2 separate regions of the Homo sapiens genome follow, and region 2 is linked to region 1. The links come from fine-mapping of genetic effects on plasma protein levels. A gene starts in region 1. The other region holds a variant in brackets. All regions are shown on one strand. Distances are between the middles of the regions.

Region 1 (3,216 bases):
ATTTCCTTAAAGAAGTCAAAGATTCGCAGAAGAGGTGAGACATTTCTGCTGGAATAGAATTATGAGTTTAAATAGTGGGGAAGAGGGATGGTATTCCAGACAGAATTTCTGACACAGTAAAAGTCACTTGAGTCTGTTAGGTTGCTAAAAGTGGGAGCTGGGATGGGGAATTATGGCAGAATATAAAGTTGGAACGACCAGCTAGGGTTACATAGTAAGGAACAATGGATTCCCATGCCAAGGTGTTTGGCCTTTATCCTGCAATCAGAGTTATGAAGAATTTCTAAGCAGGGGAGGGATAAGACCATGGGCTAAGCCTTCTTAGAGACCACTCCATAAAACCACATCCTTTATATACATAGAAGGACAGCTGGGTCCAGCTTGGTCACTGGGGCAGATATAACCACAGGTAAATCATTATAAAGTTTAATAAAAATTAAACCTTGAATAAAAAACTAAGCCTTACAGTTTTAATAATAAGTTTATTACTAGAAGGCATCAAAGTATTTCATGTGCTCTAACTTAAAAACTTAAAGTTGAGTTCACACATAGTCCTAACTAAAAATCAATGGTTCAGAAATTGGCAACTAGTATAATTATAATTATGCAATAAATACATATGTAAAAGTTTTCCTCAGAAAATGAAATAAAACTCAATTGGAATAGACAGAAGAAAAATTATTATTATGGTAATAAATACATACGTGGAATCTGTATCCTAAAATATAAATTAAATATAAGCCAGTGGACAAAATGTGGCTGAGTAAAGCTGGACTTTGCATATCATCAAAAATGGAAAAAGAAACAGTGTTGAATTATATTTCTAAGGAGTGTAGTGGCCAAGAAAAGAATCTACAATAAAGGAACATAAATTAGGAACTAAGGTACTAACAACTCATTTGTTCCCTTCCTCTTTTCTGCTGATAGTTCTCTTTTTCATCAATCCCAATGGGATTTTAGAGATCTCCCAATCCAATAGTCCTCCCCACCGTTTTACTTTAGCAGTTGAGTTCTGCAAATAGTTGTATATAAAATCCCAGCATATAAAACAGGTAAAAGCTGAAAGAGATCCAAGAGAGGGTACTAGAGCACCTAATTTGGCCTCCACTTCAGCCTTCATCCACTTTCCCTCTGAAACAGCTCCCCAAAGAGCCCTTAATTTTCCTCAGTAAAGTGTAAAACACATTGGTCCTTGTCCCAACCCTCCTAATTTACAAATGAGGGAATTATGCCCTAGAGAATTAATTTAAGGGAGTTGCCTGAGAAAAAAGATTATTTCCTAGTACCCCTGCTAAAATTAAAATGTTTTCTCTTCCTCATAAACTTGAACTCAAATGTCTGGGTTAAAAATTGTTTCTTGGCTGGGGACACAGTGGCACACGCCTGCAATCCCAGCCCTTTGGGAGGCCAAGACAGGGGCATCGCTTGAGCCCAGGAGTTCAAGACCAGCCTAGGCAAGATGACAAAATCCCATCTCTATTTTTAAAAATAAAAAAATTTTTAAATTATTTCTAAGTTATTCTGGAAGTCTATGACATCCCTCTACCACAAATTCCCATTCCAAATTCACATAAGGGCTGGGCTCAGTGGCTCACACCTGTAATCCCAACACTTTGGGAGGCTGATGCAGAAGGATTATTGAGCCCACAAGTTCAAGACTAGCCTGGGCAACATAGTGAGCCTTGTCTCTGCACAATTAACAACAACAAAATTTCACATAGGTCTATAACCACATATTATATGAGTGCCTACTTGAAGCCAGATACTCTGCTAAGAGTACGTTATCTGCTCTCATTCAACCATCACCACAAACCCCAAGAGATCAAGGAACTAGGCTCACAGAAGTACTGTAACCTGCCCAAGGTCACAGAGCTAGCAGGGTGGAATCCGGTTCTATCTGACTCCTAAAGCCAAGCTTCAGACCCTTGCACTCTTTCTAATCCCAACCTTTTCCAAATCTTTTCCTATTTTTACACAGGCTTTCAGAAATGCTGAACTGTAAGGATTACTTGTCATTTCACAGAGGATGTACTTTTCCATCAAGACCTGTGGGGGAATGCCTCATGCTGCAGCCAAGCACAAAGGCATCAAGCCCAAAAACCTCTAATTTCACGTTACAGACCATAGAAAGGCTAATCCCCACCCCCACCACAAACTCCTACAACTCCTTTTACAAGCATAGGCTACATACATTCAGTCTTATGGGGAATAGGGACTGTCAACAATTCTTAATAATAGGGCTACAAAATCAGCTCTGAGCTGACCCCTTCTGAGAGGCTGGCTTTTAGGATGGATAACTATCCAATATTTTCTAATAGGTAAAGATATTAAAATTTGTATTTAGGGCTGCCTTGGGGCAAAGGATGACTATCACCGCAGACTAGGTACCAGAGCTGGCATTTAATAATTTGAATTTGAGGGAAGGTCAAGGGAGTTCGGATTGGGGCACCCTCTGGGAGCAGAGGGAGTTGAAGTGACTGTCGTGTCCAATTACAGAAAAGCCTGAATCAAGAGTATGCAGCCAAAACTACTACCAAATTATTGGTAATGGGAGGAGAAAATTTAAACAGAACTGGGATTTGGGACCACCTTCTGGAAGATGTTAGCCAAAAACCGAACAGATCCTAGGCATCAAGGGGTGTGAATTTCGAGGTAGGCTCCGTTGCCCGGGCTCTGAGGGTCAGGGTTCCCGGCGGTTGGGCCTGGGACGGCGAAGCCCCCGCTCCCCCTTACCTTCTGTTGGAAGTAGAGAACCGAATAGTTCTTGGCTACAGCCGGGAGGGATGTGGGGTTGGTTGGCAAGTGTAGGCTGCCGAGGGCCCTTAAGGCCGGCCGGAGGGCTATGGTGGCCCAGGGCGCCAGAAAAGACAGAAGCAGGAGCAGGAGGGCTCGGCGGCCCATGGCTCAGGCTGGAGACTGCAGTGCGGGTGGGAGGGCGAAAAGGAGGCCAGCAGAAGCGCACAGGCTAAGCCCTGCCCAGCCTGCAGCTCCGCCCGCCGCAAAACAGCTCCTCCCAGGGGAAACCCAAAGCCAGCCAGCTCCTCAGAGACGCCGCCCAAGCCAGGTCACCACAGCCACTCCGCCCCCATCCCCGAGGACACCGCCTCCACTCCACTTTCCTCTCGTGCCATCTGCTCCTTAGCACTCACCTTCATTGCGGTCACACCCCAAGTCTGCCCTTATCATGCTAGGGCCTCTTCCTAACTCATCGCTGTA
Region 2 (8,532 bases), 47 kb before region 1:
ATAGCAAATGAACTTGTTTAAGTTACAAATTTTTAAGCAAGGTATACATGTAATAATTCAAAGGGGTGGTTAAATTAAAAGTGCATTTGAAACCCGGCTCTATATCGCCAATTCTATTTTCACTTCCAACACTCATTCTAGCTGAAGAGTTGGTTATATTCTCTAAATTTAACCATCAAGTTGGCCAGCCTTTGTTTTTAAAACTAAAAGGAAAGCTCTTTACAAAGAAATGCTTAAAATGAACATACACAATAAATAATTTTGACATGAAAAGAACCTTAAAATTTATACTGTAATGTGTCCTTATACTTTCCAAAGTGTTTCACATCCAACATTTTATTAGATCCTCAGCACAACCCTATTTGGTATGTAAGTACTGTTATTCCCTTCTACAGAGGAAGACGGGATGGGGAAAGAAAAGCACCTTGCCTAAGATCACACAGTTGGTAAGTGAAGCAGCAGTTCTGGACCAAAACCTCACTTTCAGAATCTAATTTGATGTTCTTTCCACTCTACTGTGCTGCATGGGGTCACTCTTCACACTGAGGGTAGCACCTACAATGCTTTCGCAGCTGACTAGATCATGGTGCTATGATAATGACTGCCATTTATTAAGCATCAACCATGTATTACATAGATGGAAGTTACACATATATCACAAAGATTAAATACATTATACATGCAAAGTACACAGCCCAGGATTTGGCACATAGTAATTATTCCATTAACAGCAACTTTAGGTATTATTTCTAATTCGTACAACTCTATAATCAATGAATTCTATCTCCATTTTTCAAATGAGGAAACTGAGGCTCAGAAAAGCTAGGTAACATGTCCAAGCCCACATAATCAGAAAGTAGCAGAACCCAGGATTCCAGCTCAAGTTTGACAAACTCTGGAGCCCCTTTGTCACTGGGACTTTCTCTGAGGCAGAAAGTCAGAGTATGCACATTAAAAAAAAAGTGTGTTATTAAAAAATGATGACAGGACATTTTCCTATTACCTTGATAGGCCAAGCAGGCAAAGGCTGTAAAAAGTTAGAGGCATAAGGATAGTCCACCATTGCCAGATTCACCCAGGTTTCAGAGATCCAGTCTTTCAAATGTTGGATGTCCTGAGAAGTTAATGGGCTGCATAAGTGAAGGGCTCCAGTAAGCCACTGCAAACCACTGCCTGGGAATAGAATCACACTGTTGGAATCTAAAAAGTACTGGTCAACAGATGTCTTTACAGATCATTTATTCTTCACATAGTATTTTAGAAAACTCAATCTTTTATACCCCTTCTCCCAGGATATTTTCAGAGCAACTGGAGAATCCCATGACAGACAAGTTGCCTATCCTCATAGAGTTTACCATAATTAGTATTCAGAATTATTCTCCCTTTTTAATATACTATTAAAATGAATAAATAGGAACACTATAGAACAACAAGAATACATAAACTACAACTTAGTAAAACAAATGGATGTATCTATCAAACAGTGCTAAGCAAAAGACAGTAGACACAAAAAAGACATGCTATGTAATTCCAATTACTAAAACATTTAAGAACAAGTAAAAATTAATCTATGGTTCTAGAAGTGAGGATGTTTTTGCTGGGTAGGTATAGAGGTAGTGACTGAAAAGGCACGAGGAGATTTCTGAGATGCTGACAACGCCCTTTACTGATTTAAATGCTAATTATACTGTGTCCTTGCTTTGTGAAAATTCATCAAGCTACGCATTTTGATTTGATTTTGATTTGTATAATTTTCTGTATGTACATTATACTTTAACAAAATGTTTACTTAAAAAGCGACAACTACTGAATTTAACAAATGAAAGGTTAAAAAAACACACAATTCCATTCTCTTAATTAAAGCTTACCAGTATTTGAGAGTCGATTAATGGCATCCCAGGACCTGTGGATGCTCTCTGAACAATGTGGACCGCTTTTCCTAAAATCTGTAGTTACGATCTTCATAAATACACCACAAGGTACTAAATCCTCAAACTGCCAGATAGGGGCAGAAGCTGCAAGAGCTCTAAATGGCAAGAAAATCAAAGAAAGAAAAAAGAAAAGAAAAAATATATATATATATTATATATATGTCATCTAAATCAAGTTTTAAAGTTGAAACATAATAAAAATATTGAGAAAAATAACACAGCTGTTAATGAGACAGAAGCCAGAAACCTCAGGGTAATGGCATGGAACATGTTTTACCCAAAATGAATCTCTAAGTTTCCCTTGATAATCATTAAGAAACGTTCATGTCCAGTACAAATGCACTTACCCAACTACCATATGAGGATATTTCATCCTAAACCAGGCGGCAAGCATGCCACCATAGGAGCCTCCTATGGCAATGACAGGTTGATTTTCAGCTCCTGGGATTGTTCTTTTCAAGTGTTTGATTAACTCTGCAAAATCAGCCAGAGCTTGTTCTGATGTCAGGAAATTCAAGTGTCTGGAATCCTAAAGAAATATAACAAAGAACACGGGTATAAATGTGCACATAACAGCAGCTTAGGAATAGCATGGATCCAGAAGAGAGCCAGTGTCAGATAAGCTTTTCTCTAAATAGAATTTCTAGGCAATTGAGCTAAAATGCCTAGTCAAAGCAATAACTGTGTGGATTCAAACTCATGAAAATGATTTTAAGTTTGTGGAAGAACATAATGTATTTTGTATGCAAGTAGATTGTAGAAACAACAGAAACAAATTGTAGGTAAAATTTAATAGCAAATGTGATCGAATATAAACTAAGCTTAATAGATAACTGTTATAACTTTTGTTTTAAATCTTGGCACATTTAAAATGTCTGCCACACAGGCAAATATAAACTAAATCTAGTGGACAATTGAGGTAAGAATCACCAGTAAAAATAAAACTCACCCTTCTTCATCGGAAAGATTATATATGACCTCGGCCATATCAACAACTGAAACAAAGTAGCCTGCCTATTTTAAACAATTATAAAATTGGAAAGAAAAAAAAACTATTTTCAGGTATTGGAAAACAGGCAACATGAGACATTGATCTTTGAGAAAAGGAAAACTCATAATGTTAAGTTTCATAAACATCCTGCTCTCTACATGAAGACAATTTCCCTACTGCAGAAGGTGAAGCCCAGTGTCCTGCTGAGCTGAGAAGGCTAAGAAGGTCTTTTAAAATATGTCTGCAAATTCTTGACACTCATTCCTTTAAAAGGTGAAGCTTAATTCCACTCCCTTTGAACTTGGATGGGATTTAATGACTTGGTTCTAATGAATAGAATGGGGCAGAAATAATGATATGTGACTACCAAGGTTAGGTCATTAAAAAAACACTGCAGCTTCCACCTTGCTCTCCCGCACTGCCAACTTTGAGGGAAATTAGCTGCCTTGTAATGAACTCAAGTAGACCCTTAACTGCAGCCTCTTGTCAACATCCAGCACCAGTTTTATCTCGTATGTGAGTAATCCTCCATATGAGAGGCTCTCCAGCCCCAGTCAAGACTTCAGATGCCTGCAGCACCAGCTGACATCCTAACCTCATGAGACCCCCTGAAACAGAACCACCTAGCTAAACCACTCCTAATTCTTCACCCATGGAAACTATAAAGTAATAGATGTTTATTGCTGTTTTAAGCCATAAGGTTTGAAGTACATCTTTACTAGACAACGAATACAGCTACATACCTCTATTAGGCTACCCTGTTTGACTTTCATGCTTTGGTCTCACCATCCTGATTTCTTCCATCATCTGGCATATTACTGAATCACATAGATCCCATCTTTCCTATCTCCTATATATGCCACCTACTCCTTTAGCTTTCCCCCCTCTTCCAAGATGTATGCCTTCTTACCTCCTCTCTCCCTGTCTGTCACTATCCTTTACTTCCAGTTTTTATGGCACTCTGTACAGTTGAGTGCATTTTTTTTCTAATCCTTGCATAATATCTATAATATCCTTCATGCTACTGACATATTCTGTGAGCACACAAAGGGAAAGAAGTATATCAAAAAGAGCCCCTGGCTCCATTTTGCTAACACAGTATCATTTATAGAAACCTAGGAGAGGAAGTTATGTTCTATCTACAACAAGCTAACTGCTTCCCAGTGGTTTCAGGACTTGTCAAGTCCCTTAATCAGATATTTACGCAAAATACCAAGCTAAAGAATAGAATTTCCCATACAGCTCAACAAATATCAGCAAATCATCCCACTTTATATTTATAACACAACATTTTTACTTATTTTTACTATTGTATTTATTTATAATATGAGATAGTAAAATATCCTTTTTAAAAATAAAAACTCCTTTCAAAATAGGCAGCCTAGTAAAGGACTGGCCCCAAGTCCTTCTAGCTGAGAGTTCCCAAAAGCATATGTATACACTGATGGTATTAGGAAGCACACAAACATTTTTAATGGAACATTTATTGCTTCATTTTAGTGTAATTTGTAAAGAATAACCAGTACACAGAGCCCTTGGTTAAGATAATGCTAAGTTTAAAAAGTGAGCTGATTAAAGAAAAATATTAGGTAAATAATAGTACACGTGGCAAATTAATATAGCCAAAGTCACAAGTGTAGTAGTACATGAATGACTCAGTTGAAGAAAAAGTGTCCTGGTTTATTAGGTAGAGTCTGTGACAAAGGCCAAAGCTCCTGTGAGAACAGGAAAGGCTGAAAGGGAATCCAAGGGGCCAGTTGGCCTTAATGCATCATACAGCTTATTTGTCCTTATTTTATTGATTTTATTTTATTAAAAACATCTTATCAGATAAATTTGTTATGCTCATTATATTTTTTCCAGTGGCAGGCTCAATAATTTAAGTGTACGATTTATAAAGCGGAATTGTTTACTGATATTTTTGAAATAATAAAAAGCTCCCTGTGCTGTCTCTGCAGCCACAGAGTAAAATTTAACTTTCTGAGGCACACAGAGTTAAAAACTGATTAACATTAAGAATTATAATAAAATGGCTTAAAAAAAACCCTCAGTCTGTTCAAATTGTATCTAAAAAGAAACTATTAAATATAAACTATTGAGCTTTTAGGCATTTCAAATTTAAGTTATCTCACAGTGGGGCATATAATTTAGAAACTATTCTAAATTGAAAAGAAAAAGCTTGTAACTTTTAAGTAAAAAGTATCTTTACCTTGAATGAGTTGTCACCAAAGGGGAGAGACTCTCCATAGTATCGATGTTCAGCAAACACCAACATAGCTTTCAG[T/G]TCCTCAGCCACATCCCACATGAACCCCTAAGAAGAGTTTACAAAATCACAGGATAAAATCAGAATGTGAAAAAAAGTCACTGAACCTTTTGGCAAACCATATGGAATAGATGTTAAGCCAGAACAAAAAGAGCACTCTACAAAGTTGCACAATTTGTGTTTGTTCCACAAATAAATGACATAATTGATGTCTTATTGTTGCATATCAATCTCACACTTTATGAGTGAAACAATTAAAAATAATCCCAGGTTGCTCATCCACTAGTCATCCACGTCTTTTTATCCTGACACTCTAGCCCTAGCATCAACATTATGTCTAAAATGGTCTTCATGTACAAAGAGCCAGTACAAATCCTACTGAAATTATTTTTAAATAAGGACGAGGGCCTCTTCCCTAACTCATTCTATGAAGCTAGCATCATTATGATACAACACCTGGCAGGGACACAATGAAACAAGAAAACTTCGGGCCAATATCCCTGACGAAAATAGATGCAAAAACCCTTAACAAAGCTAGCAAACCAAAATCCAGCAGCATCAAGAAGTTAATTTACCAGAATCATATAGGCTTTATTCCTGGATGCAAGGATGGTTCAACATACACAAATCAATAAACAGAATTCACCACATAAACAGAACTAAAAAATAAAACCACATGATCATCTCAATAGATGCAGAAAATGTATTCGACAAAATTCAACATCCCTTCATGGTAAAAATTCTCAAAAAAGTAGGTATTGAAGGAACATACCGCAACATAATAAAAGCCATCTATGACAAACCCATAGCCAACATCGTACTGAATGGGCAAAAGCTGTAAGCATTCCCCTTGAGAACTAAGACAAGGCAAGCATGCTCTGTCTCAGCACTCTTATCCAACACGGCACTGGAAGTTATAGCCAGTGCAATCAGGCAAGAGAAAGAAATAAAAGGCATCCAAACAGGAAGAGAGGATGTCAAACTGTCTCTTTTCACAAATGATATGATGCTATACCTAGAAACCCCACAGACTCCACCAAAAGACTTCTAGAAGTGACAAAACAACTTCAGTAAAGTTTCATTATCAAATTTAATGTATAAAAATCAGTAGCATGTCTATATACCAATAACAATCAAGCTAACAGCCAAATCAAAAACACAATCCCATTTACAATAGCCACAAAAAGAATGAAATATCCAGGAATACAGCTAACCAAGGAAGTGAATCATCTCTACAATGAGAATTACAAACCACTGCTGAAAGGCATCAGAAACAACACAAAGAAATGGAAAGACATTCCATGTTCATACATAGGAAGAATCAATATTGTTAAAATGGCCATACTCCCCAAAGCAATTTACAGATTCAATACTATTGCTATCAAATTACCAACATCATTTTTCACAGAGTTAGGAAAAAAAAACTATTTTGAAATCCATATAAAACAACAACAAACAAACAAACAAAAAACTTGAATCACCAAAGCAATCCTAAGCAAGAAAAACAAAGCCAGAGGCATCACACTACCTGACTTCAAACTATACTGCAAGGCTACAATAACCAAAACATCAGGTACTGGTACAAAAATAGGCATGCAGACCAATGTAACAGGATAGAGAATCCAAAAATCAAGCCACATGCTTGCAACAACCTGATCTTAAATAAAGTCAACAATAACAAGCAATGGGAAAAGGACTCCGTATTCAATAAATGGTGCTGGGATAACTGGCTAGCCATATGCAGAAGATTGAAACTGGACCCCTTCCTTTCACCATATACAAAAATCAACTCAAAATGGATAAAAGACTTAAATGTAAAACTGAAAACTATAAAAAGCCCAAAAACCCCAGAAGAAAACTGAGGAAATACCATTCTGGACATCAGCCTTGGCAAAGAATTTATGACTAAGTCCCAAAAAGCAATTGCAACAAAAACAAAAGCTGACAAGTGGGACCTAATTAAACTAAAGAGCTTCTGCACAGCAAAAGAAACTATCAACAGAGTAAACAGACCACCTACAGAATGAGAGAAAATATTTGCAAACTATGCATCTGACAAAGGTCTAATATCTAGAATCTATAAGGAACTTAAATTTACAAGAAAAGGGCCGGGCATGGTGGCTCACGCCTGTAATCCCAGCACTTTGGGAGGCTGAGGTGGGCGGATCACAAGGTCAGGAGATCGAGACCATCCTGGCTAACACGGTGAAACCCCGTCTCTACTAAAAATGCAAAAAACTTAGCCGGGCGTGGTGGCGGGCACCTGTAGTCCCAGCTACTCGGGAGACTGAGGCAGTAGAATGGCGTGAACCCGGGAGGCGGAGCTTGCAGCGAGCCCAGATCACGCCACTGCACTCGAGCCTGGGCAACAGAGCGAGACTCTGTTCAAAAAATAATAACAATAAAATAAATAAGTAAATAAATTTACAAGAAAAAACAACCCCATTAAAAAGTGGGCAAAAGACATGAACAGATACTTTTCAAAAGAAGACATACACAAGGCCAACAAACATGAACAAAGGCTCAACATCATTATCATCAGAGAAATGCAAATGAAAACCACAATGAGATACCATCTCATACCAGTTAGGATGGCTATTATTAAAAAACAGTAAAAAAATAACAGATGTTGGTGAGGTTGTGGAGAAAGGGGAATGCTTATAAACTGTTAGTACGATATAAATTAGTTCAGCCACTACGGAAAGCAGTTTGGAGATTTCCCAAAGAACTTGAAATAGAACTACCATTCAACCCACCAATCCTCACTACTGGGTATATACCTAAAGAAAAATAGGCCAGGTGTGGCGGCTCATGCCTGTAATCCCAGCACTTTGGGCGGCCAAGACAGGTTGATTACTTGAGTCCAGGAGTTTGAGACCAGCCTGGGCAACATAGTGAAACCCTTTTCTCTACAAAAAATAAAATTAAAAACTAAATAAAAATTTAAAATAAAAATAAACCATTCTACCAAAAAGACACATGCACTTGTATGTTCATCTTAGCACTGTTTGCAATATCAAAGACACAGAATCAACCTAGATACCCTTCAAGAGTGGACTGGATAAAGACAATGTGGTCTATATACACCATAGAATACTACGTAGCCATTAAAAAGAACAAAATAATATCCTTTGCAGTAACATGGATGTAGCTGGAGGCCATTATCCTAAGTGACCTAATAGAGCAACAGGAAACCAAACACTGCATGTTCTCACTTATAAGCAGGAGCTAAACACTGAATACACATGGACACAAAGAGGGGAACAATAGACACTGCATGACTACTAGAGGGGCTAATAGTGCAGGGAGTGTGGGTGTGGGGCATGAGTTCAACAACTACGTATCAG

What was found. PIP is the chance, under the fine-mapping model, that this variant and not a neighbour inherited with it causes the effect. Protein levels are from the aptamer-based SomaScan assay of Sun 2018.
Region 2: its variant is fine-mapped to the plasma level of the PRCP protein (Sun 2018, PIP 0.95). The variant lies in the coding sequence of PRCP. If it changes the protein, the assay may bind it differently, which can mimic a change of level.

What each region holds. Positions count from the first base shown.
Region 1 is chr11:82,897,502-82,900,717 of GRCh38, forward strand. PRCP (prolylcarboxypeptidase) reads right to left here and starts at 2,929. Exons shown (of 9, transcript NM_005040.4): 1 at 2,734-2,929. The coding sequence starts at 2,901. RefSeq lists enhancers at 2,655-2,704, 2,825-2,884, 3,035-3,134.
Region 2 is chr11:82,848,046-82,856,577 of GRCh38, forward strand. It overlaps PRCP (prolylcarboxypeptidase), which reads right to left. Exons shown (of 9, transcript NM_005040.4): 3 at 5,132-5,233; 4 at 2,279-2,460; 5 at 1,869-2,026; 6 at 1,004-1,173. Among named protein-coding and RNA genes, the nearest start is that of PRCP, 48 kb to the right of the region's middle. The variant T/G (reference allele first, on the strand shown) is at 5,207.